Linked DNA regions of Homo sapiens. The protein of the gene in region 1 interacts with the protein of each later gene in a pairwise test. Each region holds a gene or a part of one and is shown on either strand. Other genes may lie near its edges. The genes, in order: SHMT1 and IDH3A.

Region 1 (9,724 bases):
TCGAGACTTTCTCAAAAAGAAAAAAAGAAAGAAAGAAAATCAAACTAACAGCCACCTGTGTAGTGTAAGTCCAGTGAAATGCTTAGGTGTGTCATATGTTGTTTAACATCTGCTAGGACTCAACATTCCCCGAGGGCACAACCGGGGTCAGTGCAGTGGAATCCTCAGCACTTACAGGAGCCGGCGAGGGAAGAAATGACTACGCCCTTATCAGTGGACACAGACACTCTAAAACATATTTTATTTATGGCTGGGCATAGTGGTTCATGCCTGTAATCCCAGTGCTTTGGGAGGCTGAGACGGGAGGATTGCTTGAGGCCAGGAGCTTGAGACCAGCCTGAGCAACATTGCAAAATCCCATCTCTATCTCTACAGAAAATAAAAAATTAGCCAGGCGTGGTGGTATGTGACTGTAGTCCCAGCTACTTGAGAGGCTGAGGCAGAAGGATCACTTGAGCCCAGGAGTTTGAGACCAGCCTGGGCAACATCGTAGACTCTGTCTCTACAAAAAATTAAATTAAAAAAAATTAGCCAGGCACGGTGGTGCATACCTGTGGTCCCAGCTACTCGGGAGGCCAAGATGGTAGGATTGCTTGAGCCCAGCAGCTTGAGGCTGCGATAAACCATGATTGTGCCACTGCACTCCAGCCTGGGTGACAGAGCAAGACTTTGTCTCAAAAGAAAAAAAAAAGAAAGAAAAACACAAAGACAAAACACTACAAGAGGCAGAAAAAGAATGGAAGACAAAAATACAAAGAAACAAAAGCAACAATTAGAAAACAGTAAAAAAAAAAAGGCAGATATTAATCCAATTATATCAACAATTCCTTTGCATATCAATGGTCCAAATTAACCGATTAAAAGAGAGAGATTGGGCTGGGCGAAGTGGCTCACGCCTGTAATCCCAGCACTTTGGGAGGCCAAGGTGGGCGGATCACGAGGTCAGGAGATTGAGACCATCCTGTCTAACATGGTGAAACCCTGTCTCTACTAAAAATACAAAATATTAGCTGGGCGTGGTGGCGGGCGCCTGTAGTCCCAGCTACTTGGGAGGGTGAGGCAGGAGAAAGGCGTGAACCCAGGAGGCAGAGGTTGCAGTGAGCTGAGATCGTGCCACTGCGCTCCAGCCTGGGCAACAGAGCAAGACTCCATCTCAAAAAAAAAAAAGAAAAAAAGAGAGAGATTGTCAGAGTACAGCAAAAAACAAGATGCAACTATATGCTCCTTGTAAGAACTACACTTTAAAGATGTATATATTAAAAGTAAATGGATAAAGAAAGATCTACTATGCCAACACTAATCAAAAGGAAGCAGGAGTCCCTATATTAATTTCAGACAGTACAGGCTTCAGGGCAAGGAAAGTCATCAGGAACAGGACAGGTGCTGGGTGGCTTCCCAGCACTTTGGGAAGCCAAGGCGGGCAGATCACTTGAGGCCAGGAATTCAAGACAAGCCTGGCCAACATGACAAAACCCTGTCTTTACTAAAAATACAAAAATTAGCTGGGCATGGTTGCACTCGACTGTAATCCCAGCTACTCCTCAGGCTGAGGCACGAGACTCACTTGAGCCTGGGAGGCAGAGGCTGCAGTAAGCTGAGATCATGCCACTGTACTCCAGCCTGGTTGACAGAGACTCTGTCTCAAAAAAAAAAAAAAAAAGAAAGAAAAGAAAAGAAAAAGAAAAAGGAAGGAAGGAAGGAAGGGAAAGAAAAGAAAGTTGTGAGGGATAAGGACAGGTCATTACATAATGATTAAGGAGTCAATGCTCAAAGAAGACATAACAGTCCTTAACATGTATGATCCTGACAACAGAACATCAAAATATGTGACTGAAAAAGTGACAGCGCTGCAAGGAGAAACTATTATAGTTGGCGACTTCAATGTCCCTCTATCAGAAACGGACAGATCCAGCAGGCAGAAAATCTGTAACTCAGTAACACCCTCTGTAACTGGATATAATGGAAACCTATAGACTATTTCATACGATGACAGCAGAAAAAAAAGAAAAGAAAAACGCTTTGGTTTTTCCCGTATCTTAGGCTGGAGAGCAGTGGCACGATCACAGCTCACTGCAGCCTTGAACTCCTGGGCTCAGGAGATCCTCCCCACTCAGCACCCTGACTAGTTGGGAATACAGGTGTGCACTTCCACACCTGGCCAATTTTCTTTCTTTCTTTTTAATTTTTTTCATCATGTAGCACAAAATGTCATAATTTTTTTAATTTTAATTTTTCATAGAGATGGGATCTTGCTATGTTGCCCAGGCTACTCTTGAACTCCTGGCCTCAAGCAATCCTCCTACCTCAGCCTCCCAAAGTTCTAAGATTACAGGTGTGAGCCTGAGTCACCATGCCCAGCCACAAATAAAATATTTTTTAGCTGGGCGCGGTGGCTCACGCCTGTAATCCCAGCACTTTGGGAGGCCAAGGCGTGTGGATCATGAGGTCAGGAGATCGAGACCATCCTGGCCAAAATGGTGAAACCTCATCTCTACTAAAAATACAAAAATTAGCCAGACGTGGTGGTGGGTGCCTGTAGTCCCAGCTACTCAGGAGGCTGAAGCAGGAGAATTGCTTGAACCTGGGAGGCAGAGGTTGCAGTGAGCCAAGATTGTGCCACTGCACTCCAGCCTGGAGACAGAGCAAGACTCCATCTCAAAAAACAAAAAAAAAAAAAAAAAAATTTAAGTATCAGTAGGCCGGGCACAGTAGCTCATGCCTGTAATCCCAGCAGTTTGGGAAGCTGAGGCAGGTGGATCACTTGAGGTCAGGAGTTTGAGACCAGCCTGGCCAACATGGCAAAACCCCGTCTCTACTAAAAATACAAAAAAAAAAAAAAAAAAAAAAAAAAAGCCAGGTGTCATGGTGCATGCCCGTAACCCCAGCTACTCGAGAGGCTGAAGAAGGAGAATCACTTGAACCCAGGAAGCAGAGATTGCAGTGAGCCAAGATCACGCCACTGCACTCCAGCCTGGGCAACAGAGACTCTATCTAAAAAAAATAAAAAAATAAAAAATGAAGCATTCAGTGCTGGAGAAGAAATGGGAAATGGGTATTTCCCTAAATTGTTGCTGGGAGTGTGAATTGTTACAATGCTTGTAGAAAGCAATATGGCAATATTTACTAAAAGCTTGACCCAGAAATCTTACTTTGGATATTAAAAAACTCACGGGTTGGGCACAGTGGCTTATGCCTGTAATCCCACCACTTTGGGAGGCTGAAGCGAGCAGATCATCTGAGGTCAAGAGTTCGAGACCAGCCTGACCAACATAGTGAAACCTCGTCTCTACTAAAAATACAAAAATTAGCAGGGCGTAGTGGCGCACGCCTGTAGTCGCAGCTACTTGGGAGGCTGAGGTGGGAGAACTGCTTGAACCCGGGAGGCGGAAGCTGCAGTGAGCCGAGATCACACTATTGCACCTCAGCCTGGGCAACAGAGAGAGGCTCCGTCTCAAAAAAACAAACAACAGGCCGGGCGCGGTGGCTTGTGCCTGTAATCCCAGCACTTTGGGAAGCCGAGGCAGGTGAATCACGTGAGGTCAGGAGTTCGAGACCAGCCTGGCTGACATGGCGAATCCCTGTCTGTGAGAAAAATACAAAAATTAGCTGTGCACGGCCGGGCGCGGTGGCTCATGCCTGTAATCCCAGCACTTTGGGAGGCCGAGGCAGGCGGATCAGAGGTCAGGAGATCAAGACCATCCTGGCTAACACAGTGAAACCCTGTCTCTACTAAAAATATAAAAAATTAGCCGGACATGGTGGCGGGCGCCTGTAGTCCCAGCTACTCGGGAGGCTGAGGCAGGAGAACGGCGTGAACCTGGGAGGTGGAGATTGCAGTGAGCGAAGATCGAGCCACTGCACTCATGCCTGGGCGACAGAGCGAGACTCCGTCTCAAACAAACAAACAAAAAGAACAATTAGCTGGGCATGGTGGTGCACGCCTGTAGTCCCAGCTACTCGGGAAGCCGATGCAGGAGAATTGCTTGAACCAGAGAGGCAGAGGTTGCAGGGAGCCAAGATCGCATCACTGCACTCCAGCCTGGGTGACAGAGCGAGACTCCATCTCAAATAAATAAATAAATAAAACAAAAACAAAAAACAAAAACACTCACTATGTTGGCCAGGCGCAGTGGCTCTTGCCTGTTATCCCAGCACTTTGGGAGGCCGAGGAGGATGGATCACTTGAGATCAGGAGTTCAAGACCAGCCTAGCCAATATGGTGAAACCCTATCTCTACTAAACATACAAAAATTAGCCGGGTGTGGTGGCTCACGCCTGTAATCCTAGCACTTTGGCAGGCTGAGGCAGGTGGATCACAAGGTCAGGAGATCAAGACCATCCTGGCTAACATGGTGAAACCCTGTCTCTACTGAAAATACAAAAAATTAGCCAGGCGTGGTGGTGGGCTCCTGTAGTCCCAGCTACTCGGGAGGCTGAGGCAGGAGAATGGCATGAACCCAGGAGGCAGAGCTCGCAGTGGGCCTAGATCGCGCCACAGCACTCCAGCCTGGGCAAGAGAGGGAGACTCCGTCTCAAAAATAAAAAAAAATTAGCCAGGCGTGGTGGCGGAGGCCTGTAGTCCCAGCTACTCAGGAGGCTGAAGCAGGAGAATGACGTGAACCCGGGAGGTGGAGCTTGCAGTGAGCCGAGATCGCGCCACTGCACTCCAGCCTGGGCGACAGAGCAAGACTCTGTCTCAAAAAAAAAAAAAAGTTTTTTTTGTATTTTTTGTTTGTTTGTTTTTCGAGATGATGAGGGTCTCACTCTGTTGCCCAGGCTGGAGTACAGAGGCAAGATCATTGCTTACTGCAACCTCTGCCTCCCAGGCTCAAGTGATCCTCCCATTCAGCCCCCCAAGTAGCTGGGACTACAGGCGACTGCCACCACACCCAGCTAATTTTAAAATTATTTGTAGAGACAAGGTTTCACCATTTTGCCCAGGCTGGTCTTGAACTCCTAGGCTCAAGCCATCTGCCTCGGCCTCCCAAAGTGCTGGAATTACAGGGGTGAGCCACTGCGCCCGGTTTTTATCATTCTTATAATAATTATTGTTATCATTTGACAAATAAAAAAATTTATGACGCAGCCTCAGGTGGTCCTGACATGTGGCCCCGGTTTTTATCATTCTTAACAATAGGTAATGTTCATTGAGTCCTTATTGTGTGTCAGTATTTTATTTATCTTATTTTATTCTTCTTGAGACGTTGTCTCGCTCCGTCCCCCAGGCTGGAGTGCAGTGGCGCGATCTCGACTCACTGCAACCTCCGCCTCCTGGGAGGCAACATAGTTAGACCCCCATCTCTACTTCAACCTGGGGGACAGAGTGAGACCCTGTCTCAAAAAAATAAAAATAAAAAATAACAAAAATAATAATAATAAAGTGTCTGCTCTTGGATTATACACCTACAGAGTAATAATGTTGCAGTTTGGACGCACATTTGTCCTACTTTAAATGACCACCCTGCAAACTAAAAGTAGTACCATGAACAAAATTCACTCATAATCCCACGGCCCAAGCGACAGGCTTAAGTGAGGAAGGCCCTGTGTAGTCTTCCTGGAAATCTTGGTCCACACACCAGCCCTGCAGCCAAAGCGGGTCAGTTCTGCAGGTCCCTGCCCCAGGTGCGCAGCTGCACTACGCGGCCTCCGGCCCGCCCCGGAGAAACAGGCCCTGCCCGCCGCTGCGCCGCAGCCAATAGCGCGGGTGCGTTTGGTGGCGGCCCATGCTTGGCTGCGCTCTCTGATTGGGCGCCTCCGGGGGCGGGGCCAAGCCCAAGCCTGGCGCGCAGAGTGCACCTTCCTGAGCTCGAGCGGTCCAGCGCCAAGTTCGGGGTTTGGGGTTGGAGCGGCTGGTCACGTGGCTGGCCCGCGGCGGTGCGCGGGGCGTTGGGTCAGCGGGTCTGGGACTGGTGGCACCGGCGGCGGCGTAGGACGGAGGCGTCGCTAGGTACGTGCGCGGGCCGTGTTCCGGTAGGTGGGCGGCTTCGGGTCCGAGGGCCGCGGCGTCCCAGAGCCCGGGGGGTGCTTCGGCGTCCTCGCTGTCCCCCGCCGTACCCCACCCTCTGCAGCCGCAATGACGGGAGGGGAGCGCTTGGGTCGCGCCTGGGCTGGGGATCGGGCGGCGGCCAGCCGCAGCGCCCCAGTTCCAGGCACATTCGGTATGATGGGGTGGCGGCCCGTGGCCTTTGGCAAGAATGCGAAGGCTTATCGGGGATGTGAGTAGTAGCTCTCCACTGAACACTTTTCTCGTTGAGCATTTTCGATTTAAACAATCCTAGCTCCTTCACAACAAAGCTGCAAGTCAAGTGCTACTGTTTCCCCCATTTTACAGGTGAGGAAGGTGGTGGGGCCCTGAGAAAGGAGGCAACTTAAATGGCAGAGCCCGGAATAGAACCCGGGTTCTCAAAGCCTGCGCCCCTAAAGGCTGCGCGCAGGGTCGCTCCACTTTTGGCCCGTGCCACCAGATCCCTGTGGGGAATGAGCTCTTCCTGTTGCCCGCAATCTGCCACCCCCTGTTCTAGGAGACAAATGTTGCACTGTGAAGTTCTTGGCCCGGTGCCTTGGCTTCGAGATTCCGGGAGTTAAGTGACCCTTGGTCCAGCTGAGGTCAGCACAGATGCGGGCCTTCAATCGGGCAGTTACCCAGAGAATAGACTGGAAACACCAGTTTAGGTTCTTGCAGAAATAACATTGTAGGCCGGGCGCGGTGGCTCATGCCTGTAATCCCAGCATTTTGGGAGGCCGAGGTGGGCGGATCACTTGAGGTTAGTAGTTGGAGACCAGCCTGGCCAACATGGTGAAACCCCGTCTGTACTAAAAATACAAAAAAACCTGGCTGCCCATGGTGGCACACACCTATAATCCCAGCTACTCGGAAGGCTGAGGCAGGAGAATCGCTTGAACCCGGGAGGTGGAGGTTGCAGTGAGCGGAGATCACGCCACTGCACTCCAGCCTGAGTGACAGAGTGAGACTCTATCTCAAAAGAAAGAAAGAGAGAGAAAGAAAAGAAAAAAAAGAAAAGAAATAACGTAAATTTATTACTTGGGGGAACTTGGAACGGAAGTGGGTAATTGTGTTTTTATTTAGTGCAATGTCCTGGGACAAGGCCTTGGAACTGAAGAGAAACCATTGTTCAGATTCTGGCTCTTATATGGCTTTAGACAAGTTAGCTCCCTGGGCCTCAATTTCCTCTTCTGTAAAGAAGAGAACACAAAATGTGTGTGAGATAGAAGATGTGCAACAAGTTAGTTCCCTGAGCAGATCCTTGGCTGGATCCTCTTATGTGACAGAGGCCCAGGTAAGATTTGGAGGCATGGGGAGGCTGGTGACCTTGCAGGTGACTTCACTTACTAGGTCTTTTTCCCTGACGTTGAGGATCATGCCACACATGAGCAACAGTGCCTCTACAGAAATATCCAATGTTGTAATGACTGATGTTGCAGTGAGCTGTGTTGGCTGGGGGACTTACCAGGTATTACTGAATGTTAATGAAGATGTCCCTAAGATTCCCAATTTTCTTTTTTTTTTTTTTTGAGACGGAGTCTCACTCTGTTGCCCAGGCCGGAGAGCAGTGGCGCGATCTCGGCTCACTGCAAGCTCCGCCTCCCGGGTTCACGCCATTCTCCTGCCTCAGCCTCCTGAGTAGCTGGGACTACAGGCGCCGCCACCACGCCCAGCTAATTTTTTTTTATTTTTGTAGAGACGGGGTTTCACCATGTTAGCCAGGATGGTCTCGATCTCCTGACCTCGTGATCTGCCCGCCTCGGCCTCCCAAAGTGCTGGGATTACAGATGTGAGCCACTGCACCCAGCCCCCTTTTTTCTTTTTTGTTTTTTTTTTTGAAACGGAGTCTAGCTCTGTCACCCAGGCTGGAGTGCAGTGGCATGATCTCGGTCCACTGCAATCTCTACCTCACTGGTTCAAGCTATTCTCCTGGTCTCAGCCTGCTGAGTAGCTGGGATTACAGGCATATGCCACCATGCCTGGCTAATTTTTGTTTTTGTTTTTTTTTTTTTTTTTGAGACAGAGTCTTGCTCTGTTGTCCAGGCTGGAGTGCGGTGGCACGATCTCAGCTCACTGCAACCTCCTGGGTTCAAGCGATTATCTTGCCTCAGCCTCCTGAGTAGCTGGGGTTACAGGTGCGCACCACACACCCAGCTCATTTTTGTATTTTTAGTAGAGATGGAGTTTTACCGTGTTGGTCAGGCTGGTCTCGAACTCCTGACCTGGGGTGATGCACCCGCCTTGGCCTCCCAAAGTGCTTGGATTACAGGAATTGAGCCACTGCGCCCAGCTAATTTTTGTATTTTTAGTAGAGATGGGGTTTCACCATATTGGCCAGGCTGGTCTCAAACTCCTGACCTCAAGTGATCCACCCACCTCGGCCTCCCAAAGTGCTGGGATTACAGGCGTCAGCCACCGCGCCTGACCGCTTTTTTTTCTTTCTTTAGAGAGACGGGGTCTCCCTATGTTGCCCAGGGTGGTCTTGACTCTTGTGGTCCTGTGACTCCCCAGACTTCAGGTGTGCAAGCCTGATTTCTGACCCTTGGCCAGTCACACTTTCTCCTTTGTCTGGCCTTTGAACTTGGGGTGCTCTGCACTTGTTTACTCTGCGTAGATTGCTCTCATCCCAGATTTCATGGTTGGCTCCTTTCCACAGCTCAGATTTCAGCTCCGGGACGTTCCCTGACCCAGTCTAAAGTAGCCTTGCACCCATTTATTGCATCTTTCTTTCTTTTCTTTTCTTTTTTTTTTTTTTGAGACAGGGTCTTGTTCTCTTGGCCAGGCTGGAGTGCTGTGGGAAAATCTGGGCTCACTGCAGCCTCAACCTCCGGGACTCAAGTGATCATCCTGCCTCAGCCACCCAGAGTAGCTGAGAATACAGGCGTGCGCCACCAGGCTCGGGTAATTTTTTGTATTTTTTTTTAGAGACAGGGTTTTGCCATGTTGCCTAGGCTGGTCTTGAACGCCTGGGCTCAAGTGATCTTCTCGTCTCAGCCTCTCAGAGTTCTGGGATTACAAGTGTAAGCAACCATGCCTGGCCTTGTGTATTTCTTTTTGGTTTTTTTTGTGATGGAGTCTTGCTCTGTCACCCAGGCTGGAGTGCAATGGTATGATCTCGGCTCACTGCAACCTCCACCTCCTGGGTTCAAGCGATTTTCCTACCTCAGCCTCCCGCATAGCTGGTATTACAGGGGCCCACCACTATGCCCATCTAATTTTTGTATTTTTTAGTAGAGACGGGGTTTCGCTGTGTTGGCCAGGCTGGTCTCGAACTCCTGACCTCAGGTGATCCGCCCGCCTTGGCCTCCCAAAGTGCTGGGGTTACAGGTGTGAGCCACTGTGCCTGGCCAAATAATTTTTTTTTTTTTTTAAGATAGAGTCTTGCTTTGTTGCCAGGCTGCGGTGCAGTGGTGTGATCTCTGCTCACTACAGTCTCCGCCTCCTGGGTTCAAGCCATTCTTCTGCCTCAGCCTCCTGAGTAGCTGGAATTACAGGCGGGCGCCACCACACCCAGCTAATTTTAGTATTTTTAGTGGAGATGGGGTTTCACCATGTTGGCCAGGACAGTCTTGATTTCCTGACCTTGTGGTCTGCCCGCCTTGGCCTCCCAAAGTGCTGGGATTACAGGCGTGAACCACTGCACCTGGCCTTTTTTTTTTTATTGAGACACAGTCTCACTCTGTCACCCAGACTGGAGTGCAGTGGCACAATCTCGGCTCA
Region 2 (9,600 bases), on another chromosome or scaffold:
AGGTCAGGAGATCAAGACCACCCTGGCTAACATGGTGAAACCCTGTCTCTACTAAAAATACAAAAAATTAGCTGAGCATGGTGGCGGGCGCCTGTAGTTCCAGCTACTTGGGAGGCTGAGGCAGGAGAATGGCATGAACGCAGGAGAATGGCGTGAACCCAGGAGGCGGAGCTTGCAGTGAGCCAAGACAGCGCCACTGCACTCCAGCCTGGGCGACAGAGCCAGACTCCATCTCAAAAAAAAAAATTATTTTTTAATTTTATTTTTAGAGATAAGGTCTTCCTCTGTCATCCAGGCTGGAGTGCAGTGGTGCAATCATGGCTCACTGTAGCCTCTAACTCCTGGGCTCAAGTGAGCCTTCCACCTCAGCCTCCCAAGTGGCTGGGACTACAGGTACATGCCACCATGCCTGGCTAAATTTTTATATTTTGTAGAGACTATGTCTTGCTATGTTGCCCAGGCTGGTCTTCAACTCCTGGCCTCAAGTGATCACCTCGGCCTCCCAAAGTGCTGGGATTGCAGATGTGAACCACCATGCCAGGCCATTGATCACTTTTGAAGGCTGCATGATGGTCCACTTCATTCATTTCCCCTAAATTACATAACCATTTCTTCTGTTAATCATTTAGACTGCTTTTTTCTCTTTTTAGTTTTCAAAATTAAGGATAATTGTATAATGAATATCTTTGTGTTGATGGCTTTTTCTTTCTGGATTTTTTTCCCCAAGAGTTTAATTCTCAGGAATGGATTTACTAGGTGAAAGAGTAAGAACAGTTAATGTCTCTCTTAAGACACATTGCTAAACTGTTTTCCAAAGAGATTGTGGAAATGTATAAGGCCAGCCAAGCAGTGCGCCATAAATTGGATGGTATAAGGCATTGCATTTTATTAATATTTTTAAATAAAAATAATTTTTTTTAGAAATTTGCATGCATTTGACTATTGTTAAGATTGAACATTTATTTAAAAGTTTATTTGGCTGTGAATTGATTATTCAGGTCCTTTTCCCGTTTTGTTTTGTTTTTTTTTTTCCCGAGACGGAGTCTTACTCAGTCACCCAGGCTGGAGTGCAGTGGTGTGATCTCGCCTCACTGCAACTTCCACCTCCCAGGTTCAAGTGATTCTCCTGCCTCAGCCTCCCCAGTAGCTGGGACTACAGGTGTGCACCACCATGCCTCCCTAAGTTTTGTATTTTTAGTAGAGAGGGGGTTTTACTATGTTAACCAGGCTGGTCTTGACCTCCTGACCTTGTGATCTGCCCGCCTCGGCCTCCAAAAGTGCTGGGATTACAGGAATGAGCCACCATGCCCGGCCTATGTTTTTTGTTTTGTTTTGTTTGAGACAGAGTCTTACTCTGTCGCCCAGGCTGGAGTGCAGTGGCACGATCTCGGCTCACTGCAACCTCGGCCTCCCAGGTTCAAGCAGTTCTCTGCCTCAGCCTCCTTTGTAGCTGGGATTACAGGTACCCGCCACCACGCCCAGCTAATTTTTTGTATTTTTAGTAGAGACAGGCTTTCACCATCTTGGCCAGGCTGGTCTTGAACTCCGGACCTCGTGATCCACCCACCTCTGCCTCCCAAAGTGCTGGGATTACAGGCGTGAGCCACCGCGCCCAGTCCCCTTTTCCCATTTATTTACTAAAGTCCTAATACCTTCTTTACCAATTTGTTGGATCTTTTCCTAACTTAGAGATAGGGATGAACCCTTTGCCAATCATATCTTTAATGAAAATAATATTTTAAATAAAGTAGGAAAACTGTTGAAATGAATTTCTTTTGTAACAAAAAATAAACATTTGGTATGTGAATAATGTATATTCTGTTTTGCTGATTTATTCACTTAAAAATTGCTATCTTGATTTTATTATTTATTTATTTGACACAGAGTCTCGCTCTGTCACCCAGGTTGGAGTGCAGTGGTGCGATCTTGGATCACTGCAATCTCCGCCTCCCAGGTTCAAGTGATTCTCCTGCCTCAGCGTCCTGAGTAGCTGGGACTACAGATGCACACCACCACCCCTGGCTAATTTTTGTTACTTTTAGGAGAGATGGGGTTTCACCATATTGGCCAGGCTGGTCTCAAACTCCTGACCTCAGGCGATCCACCCACCTCTGCCTCCCAAAGTGCTGCGATTACAGGAGTGAGCCACCGCACCTGGCCTCTTGATTTTAAAATCTTTTTTTTTTTCCTTAGAGTGAAGCACACCTGGATTGGATAGTGCTTGTTATTACAGATAAGGGTGCACTTTCTAGATTCTTCTCCTGAGTGGCAAAGTTTTCCCACCGTCTTGTCCAAACATACTTTGCTGATGGTATCTCTGGGCACTACACAGTGCAAGGGACAAGGAAAAAGGGCTTTTCCAGAGGAGAGTGACCTGCATCTTGGAGGAACTCTAGAACATGTTCGAGGAATGGTGACTGGGGCTTCTGGAGCCAAGGGCTGACTCAGGGAACAGATCTCAGCTCAAGGTGAGGTCATTTCTGTTTCCTGCATGTCCCTCCAGCTGCTGACATTTTACCTCTTCAAGGACTGATTCAAATGCCATCTCCATTGTGCAATCTTCCTTGATCACCCCCCAACTTCCATCTGAGACTTCTGAGTTTCTCCCTCACTAGATCTGGAGGGTAGGAGTGGGTCTTGTTCATTTTTTGTTCTCACAGTGCACTTGCTAGAGAATGGCTTGGGAAGCCTTTGTAGGATTGGACTGGCCCTCAGCGAAAGTTCAGCAGTTAGGAGAACTGCCTTAGTACTTAGGAAGCTTCCTAGTGTGAATGCCAGCATCATCACTTACTAGCTGTACTTCAGTTTTCTCATAGGGTTGTTGTGAAGATTAAATGAAGACTGGACAAAGTCAGTCAATGTTTATTTCACAATCACTGAGCAGCAAGTATTCCTTGTGTACCAGTCTCTGTTCCAGAAACAACGTCATAAGAGATCATCAAGATTATCTCTGGACTTAAGGCATATCTTCTCTCTATCTCTTTTGAGACAGAGTCTCGCTCTGTCACCCAGACTGGAGTGCAGTGGCATGATCTCGGCTCACTGCAACCTCTGCCTCGTGGGTTCAAGCGATTCTGATGCCTCAGTCTCCTGAGTCACTGGGATTATAGGCATGTGCCAACACGCCCAACTAATTTTTGTATTTTTAGTAGAGACAGGGTTTTGCCATGTTGGCCAGGCTGGTCTCCAACTCCTGACTTCAAGTGATCCACCTGCGTCGGCCACCCAAAGTGTTGGGATTACAGGCGTGAGTCACCACGCCTGGCCCAAAGCTTATCTTCTCAATGGCACACAGCAGAAGAGAATGTGATGTTTCCCAGGAGAGGTGGGAGCCAAGTGCTAGAGGGCTCTGAGTAAGGAGAGGGGGACACATTCGTGGGTCTTGGGGGCTTTTACAACTTTTACTACTTCCCAACATGTAAGCTGAGTCTTGACAAGGAGCTAGAATTTCAGCCAGTAGAAGTGGGGCAAGAGGGCATTGAGGCTGAGGGAATGGCACGACCATAGGCACGGAGAGGTAAAATATGGGAAGCATTTGGGGGCTGGCCAGCAGTCCTAGTTGGCAGGCGCTCCAGGTCTTTGGGGCTGGAAGGAGTGGTGGGAAATCAGGCTGAAAAAAGACAGTGGTGTGAGAGGAGAGTGCAAGGGAGAGCCAGGAGGTTTCAGAGCCGGGGCGAGCCCTGGTCAGAGCTGTGCCTGAAGGGGAGGGCAGGTTGGCAGGTGAAGAGGCTGTTGTAAGAGCCTGGGCCTGAGGTGGTCTGGCCCGAAGGAGGGCAGGGGTGACATTGGGGATGGAGGAACTGTGGGAGAACACTTCAGGATGGGACTGCCAGGGCCTGATGAGGGGAAGGGGCCCAATGGAAAGGGGTTGATAAAAGCCCTCCTTCCTGACAAGGCCACAGACTTAGCTGCAGTTTATTATTTAGGTCATAAAAGCTCTTGGGATCACTTCTCTACTGCACTCATCACCTCTCTGGGTGGGTAGGCAGCTCCTCTCTGGATAGAACTCTTCCCAGGGTAGGGTAGCAGAGACCTGGTTTAAACACCTGACCTCCCCTGGCACCCAGCTAGAGGCCTGGCCATCAGCAGGAACTCAGGAGTTTGTGATGGACAGGGAGAGGACAAGGGGAAAGGTGAGTATGGATGTTATTTCTTCAGAGAAGCATTCCCTGACCTCCAGGTTAGGTTTGAATCAGGTTGCCTGATTTTGCCTTGCCATAGCTCCTTGCTCTTTTGCTTCTTGGCGCAACAGTTTTAATGACATGTGTGTGACACTTGATTGAAGCCTGTCTTTCCTACTGGACACTAAGCCCCAGCACTTAAAACAGTGCCTGGTGTCTAGTTGACCCTCAGAAATATTTGTTGAGCTAAATAGACAGATTAGTAGTTGCCTGGGATTGAGGACAGGAGCGGGATTGACTATAAACGGACACAAGGAACATTTTCATATGCTCAAAAACTGGATTGTGGTGATGGTTGTGCAACTGTTTACATTTACTAAAAATCATCAAACTGTACACTTACAGTGAGTAAATGTTACTATATATACATTATACCTCAATAAAGCTGGTAAAAAATAAAATTCGGCCAGTCGCAGTGGCTCACTTTGTGAGCCTGGGGCAAGCAGATCGCTTGAACTCTGGAGTTCCAGACCAGCCTGAGCAACATAGCGAGGCCCCATCTCTACGGAGAAAAAAAAAAAAAAAAAAAAAGAAAAAGAAAAGAAAAAACAAAGTTGGGCTGGGCTTAGTAATTACTTGATCCCAGGAGGTCGAGGCTTTGTAGTGAACCTGTTCGCGCTACTGCACTCCAGCCTGGGCGACAGAGTGAGACCCGGTCTCAAAAAAAAAAAAAAAATCAAAATTTGTGGAATAAGAAAATTATGTGTCTTTCTCCACGGGATTGTAAATTCTATGAGGAGCGCTATATCCCCAAGATCCTAGAACATTAATCAGCACCTAGTAGGTGTGGAACAAACGTCTTACCTTAACAGCGAGTCAATGAACCAGGGAGGGGAGGAAGAAGCTTTCCCGGAGATGCCGGCCCCTCAGTTTCCGGGTTCGCCTGGCGCTCAGCCAGGCCAGTCACAGAGAGACGAGCCCGGCGATTCGCCAGCGGAATGTCCAGGGGCGGGGCAGCGAGCGAGCGCGAAGCAATCCTGAGGCGGTCTAGGGGGCGGGGCGTTCAGGGGGCGTGGCCGTGCAGGGGCGGGCTCCGAGCGTGGGGTGGGCGCTTGCGCACTGCCGCTGCGGCTGTTGCTGCGGAGCCAGGAGGGGAAGCGATGGCTGGGCCCGCGTGGATCTCTAAGGTGAGCGCTGGCAGGCCGGCGTGTGGCAGGCAGGCAGGCCGCGAGGGCTGGCAGGAGAGCCGGTCGCGTGCCGGGTGTGGGCGGGCGCGTGGGCCAGACAGGGAGGCGGTGGCTGCCCGCGGGGACAGCTTGGGAGCCGGTCCTGGTCGCCCGTGCCCCGCGCTCCGTGGCCGGCTCGCAGTGTATGGGCCGCCCCGGGCCGGGTCAGCAGCGCAGAGGCGGGGACGGCGTCAAGGTCAAGGCGGGGGGGCGCCGGCCCTGCTCCTGCCGAGACCCGGCTGCCGTCACCCGCATCCGCCCAGGCCAGAGCCCAGGCTTCGCGCCGAGCCCGGGAAGGTCACGGGAGCCTCTGTCCCGGCTCCGCCATCCGGGCCGCTTCCCCGGCTGCGGCCCTGCTGCGGGACTGATCCCCTCAGCACTGCCCACACCTCTCATCCGCTGTCTGCGCGGCCCTTGGCCGGGGAACCGCAGGTGCCACGGGCACTGGCGTTGAGCTTGGGAGGTTTTCCCAGGTGAGAGAATCCGGGGGCCCTTTTCCCTATCAGATTGTTTTCCCTTTGGCGCTCTTCCCAGTCAGACCTCTAGTGCTCTTGTAGCTATTTCCCCTTCATAGGATAGGGCATCTTACACCTCGGAATTACCGTCTGAACCTTCGGAGAGAGAGACCAGCAGAGCCTTCCTTTTACCTTTCATTGGTGGGAATCCTGCAATCTGGAGCGCTTTAGCTCTCCTTGACAGCTCAGATGCCAGAGCTGGAAAGGGTTTCAGATCATCTATGCAGTTCCGTAGCTTCTCAGTGGAACTAACCTGTGCCTGAAGAAGAATTTGCTCAAGGTCACACAGGAGGTCGGTGTCAGAGCAGGGAGAGGAACCTAGGTGTCTTGGTTCCCATTTCCCAAGGTCACATAGCAAATGATGGTACAGGCCATCAGGCCTCAAGTCTCCTGTTGCTATGAAAGGGTGGTCCCCTAGAAATCTATAAACAATTTAACGTTTTTCTGTAAGTTTGATACTACTTTTCTCCCATTTTTTCGGTTTAAAGAGAGGTCCAGAGATGCACTGTTATTTAAGGAAAAGATCTCTGTACTGGAATTTAGGAGTCTCAGATTTAAATCCTAGCAATGCCACTGATTGGCTGTGTGACCCTAAGCAAATTACTAAACATCTCTAAGCCTTAATATGCCCATCTGTGAATATCTATACTTACATCACAGAATTGTTTGAGTATTAAATAAAATAATGTATGTGAAAGCACTTGGTATGTACAGAAGGAAAACAAAAATCTGAAGCTTTCTTATCAATATGTTTATCTGTCTCCAACAGACAGTGGTTTTCATGGGCATCATTAACTGGTTTTTTTGTTCAATAACTAGATTCTACTTTGTCACCCTCTTCAGACCCAGATTTGCTTGTGATGATAACTCTTATGTCACATTTGCTCCTAAAAGTAAAGCAACTTCTGTGTCACTGTGAAAACTGAACTCAGTCCTTTAATCTCTGAACTTACATTTAACACCCAATTCATCTTTGGTAGGTACATTTGCCTTCACAGTGAGGCACTAAAGCAACACTTGATAATGATTGTGCTGGTAAATCTGTTTTGCCTTTAGTGTGATCTGCATGAAAAAACCCTCATAGTAGGTATTCAGAAAGTGTTGGGTTGTGGAGTCAGAAGATGAGGTTCTCTGACATGCACTCCCTGTGTGACCTTTGGCAGAGTCATTTGACTTCTGGGCCAGCTTCTCACTTTAGGGATTGGAGCAGAAGGTGGCTCAGAGGCTGACCCCAGGATGGTGGAGGTGCTGAGCTGGATGCCGGTTTCAATCAGGACAGTTCCTCTGTTGAGTTTCCATTTCAGGTTGTGGCCAGGCATGGTGGCTCATGCCTGTAATTCTAGCACTTTGGGAGGCCAAAGTGGGCGGATCACTTGAGGTCGGGAGTTCAAGACCAGCCTGGCCAACATGGCGAAACCCCATCTCTACTAAAAATACAAAAATTTGCTGGGCGTGGTGGCGCACGCCTGTAATCCCAGCTACTCGGGAGGCTGAGGCAGGAGAGTCACTTGAACCCAGGAGGTGGAGGCTGCGGTGAGAGGAGATCATGCTCCTACCTGGGTAACAGCAAGACTCTGTCTCAAAAAAAAAAAAGATTTTTTTTTTAAAACCCATCTCAGAACCCATGTACAACACTATTTACATGTTTTTAAGTTAAAAAGGAAATGAGTTGTGGATTAAGATGGCCCACGACCTGAAGTCCAAAGTTCAGGGTTTTGGTCCAGGCTTCATGAACCTGGCCTCAGTTTCCTCATCTGAAAAGTGCCAATAATGCCTATCTCTACAGGTTTTATATAAATAAAATGATGTGAGATATATATATATATATGCATATGAGTATTCTATAAAGTAGAAGTCCTGCCATCTCAGCCTTCCATGAAGCTGGGACTACTGGTGTGTGCCACCATACCTGGCTAACATTTAAAATTTTTTTTGTAGAGGTAGGGTCTCACTCTGTTGTCTAGGCTGATTGGTCAGGTCTTCTGTCACAGAGACATAAGCTAGTTTTGTGTGAATGTCTTTTCCCTCTTTTTTGGGCTGGGAGAGGAGAAAGGACTCATGTCAATTTTTTTTTTTTTTTTTTTTTTTTTTGAGACAGAGTTTTGCTCCTGTTGCCCAGGCTGGAGTGGAATGGTGAGATCTTGGCTCACTGCAACCTCCACCTCCTGGGTTCAAGCGATTCTCCTGCCTGAGCCTCCCAAGTAGCTGGGATTACAGGCACCCACCATCACACCCAGCTGATTTTTGTATTTTTATTAGAGACAGGGTTTCACCATGTTGGCCAGGCTGGTCTTGAACCCTGACCTCAGGTGATCCACCGGCCTCAGCCTCCCAAAGTGCTGGGATTACAAGCGTGAGGCACTGCGCCCGGCCTTTTTTTTTTTTTTTTTTTTGAGATGGAGTTTTGCTCTTGTCACCCAGGCTAGAGTGCAATGGCGCGATCTTGGCTCACCGCAACCTCTGCCTCCTGGGTTCAAGTGATTCTCCTCCCTCAGCCTCCTGAATAGCTGGGATTACAGGCATGTGCCACCACGCCTGGCTAATTTTGTATTTTTAGTAGAGACAGGGTTTCTCCATGTTAGTCAGGCTGGTCTTGAACTCCTGACCTCAGGTGATTTGCCTGCCTCAGCCTCCCAAAGTGCTGGGATTACAGGCGTGAGCCACCGCATCCGGCCTCATGTCACTTTTATGCTCTGCTTGTCACGAAGTAACCTTTAAATGGTGCTTTGGAAAATTTTATTTTACTTAAAGTTCTGGGTCATTGTGATGACTTAGGTGCAGTACTGCTTTATTCTAAGATCATGCAAGAGAGATGACAAACATGGAAAAGACTGGTCCTTAAAGAAGATCATTGCAAGTATTAAGGCTACTTGTTGGCTTGGAAACTCTTCAGATAGAGATGTGACTGAGGCTGGACTCAGTTTTGTTTGATTGTTGTTTTGTTTTTTTTTAAATTATTGAATACCTTCTATGAGCCAGGGACTGTTCTAGACACTAGATACAACAGTGAACAAAACACAAATCCTTACACTCCTGGGTTTACATTGCTGCCCCCAGCATATGCAGGTAGGATGGGTTTACATTTTAAAATCAGTTGTTTGAGTCGGGTCTTTTTCATTCTTTCTTTCTTTTTTTCTTTTTTTTGTCCATTACCTAGGCTGGAGTGCAGTGGCATAATCATAGCTCACAGAAGCCTCAAGCTCCTGGGCTCAAGCAGTCCTGAGCTCAAGCCGACTTAGCCTCCCATGTAGCTGAGACCATTGGTGTGCACCACCATACCTGGCTAATTTTGTAGAGACAGGGTCTCACTTTGTTGCACAGCCTGGTTGGTTGGGTCTTCTGTCACAAGGACATGAGTTTTGTGTGAATGTCTTTTCCTTCTTTTTTGTTCAGGGAGAGGAGAAAGGACACATGTCAATTTTCTTGTCACAAAGTAGCCTTTAAATGGCCTCCCTTCCAATAGCCCACTCGCTGGTGGATGAATCATGCCCTAGGATTAACATTTTGGCCAATGGTTTTGGCATTCTTTTGGATTTGGCCCAGTCTTATTTTCAATGCAGAGTCATGACTATAGATACCAGAAGATTAGAGAATAAAATTCATTCATACCTTTCTTGGCTGTTGGTTGTTACCAATAAATATTTCAGCAAAGGTTCAGACCCCAGAAAAAAACATCAAGATAGGATATAACAAATGTGTCTTTGCTCATGTATCTAGCAGGAGAAAAAGTTACTTTTT

What was found.
Region 2: the proteins of SHMT1 (region 1) and IDH3A interact in binary tests that used the Homo sapiens proteins (3 or more experiments, as listed by UniProt).

What each region holds. Positions count from the first base shown.
Region 1 is NC_000017.11:18,359,595-18,369,318, reverse strand, and holds the start of SHMT1 (serine hydroxymethyltransferase, cytosolic), read left to right. Parts: upstream 1-5,768; 5' UTR 5,769-5,947; exon of another isoform or gene 5,948-5,970; intron 5,971-8,766; exon of another isoform or gene 8,767-8,905; intron 8,906-9,724. UniProt on the Homo sapiens protein: Interconversion of serine and glycine.
Region 2 is NC_000015.10:78,144,123-78,153,722, forward strand, and holds the start of IDH3A (isocitrate dehydrogenase [NAD] subunit alpha, mitochondrial precursor), read left to right. Parts: upstream 1-5,239; 5' UTR 5,240-5,281; coding exon 5,282-5,308; exon of another isoform or gene 5,309-5,820; intron 5,821-9,600. UniProt on the Homo sapiens protein: Catalytic subunit of the enzyme which catalyzes the decarboxylation of isocitrate (ICT) into alpha-ketoglutarate.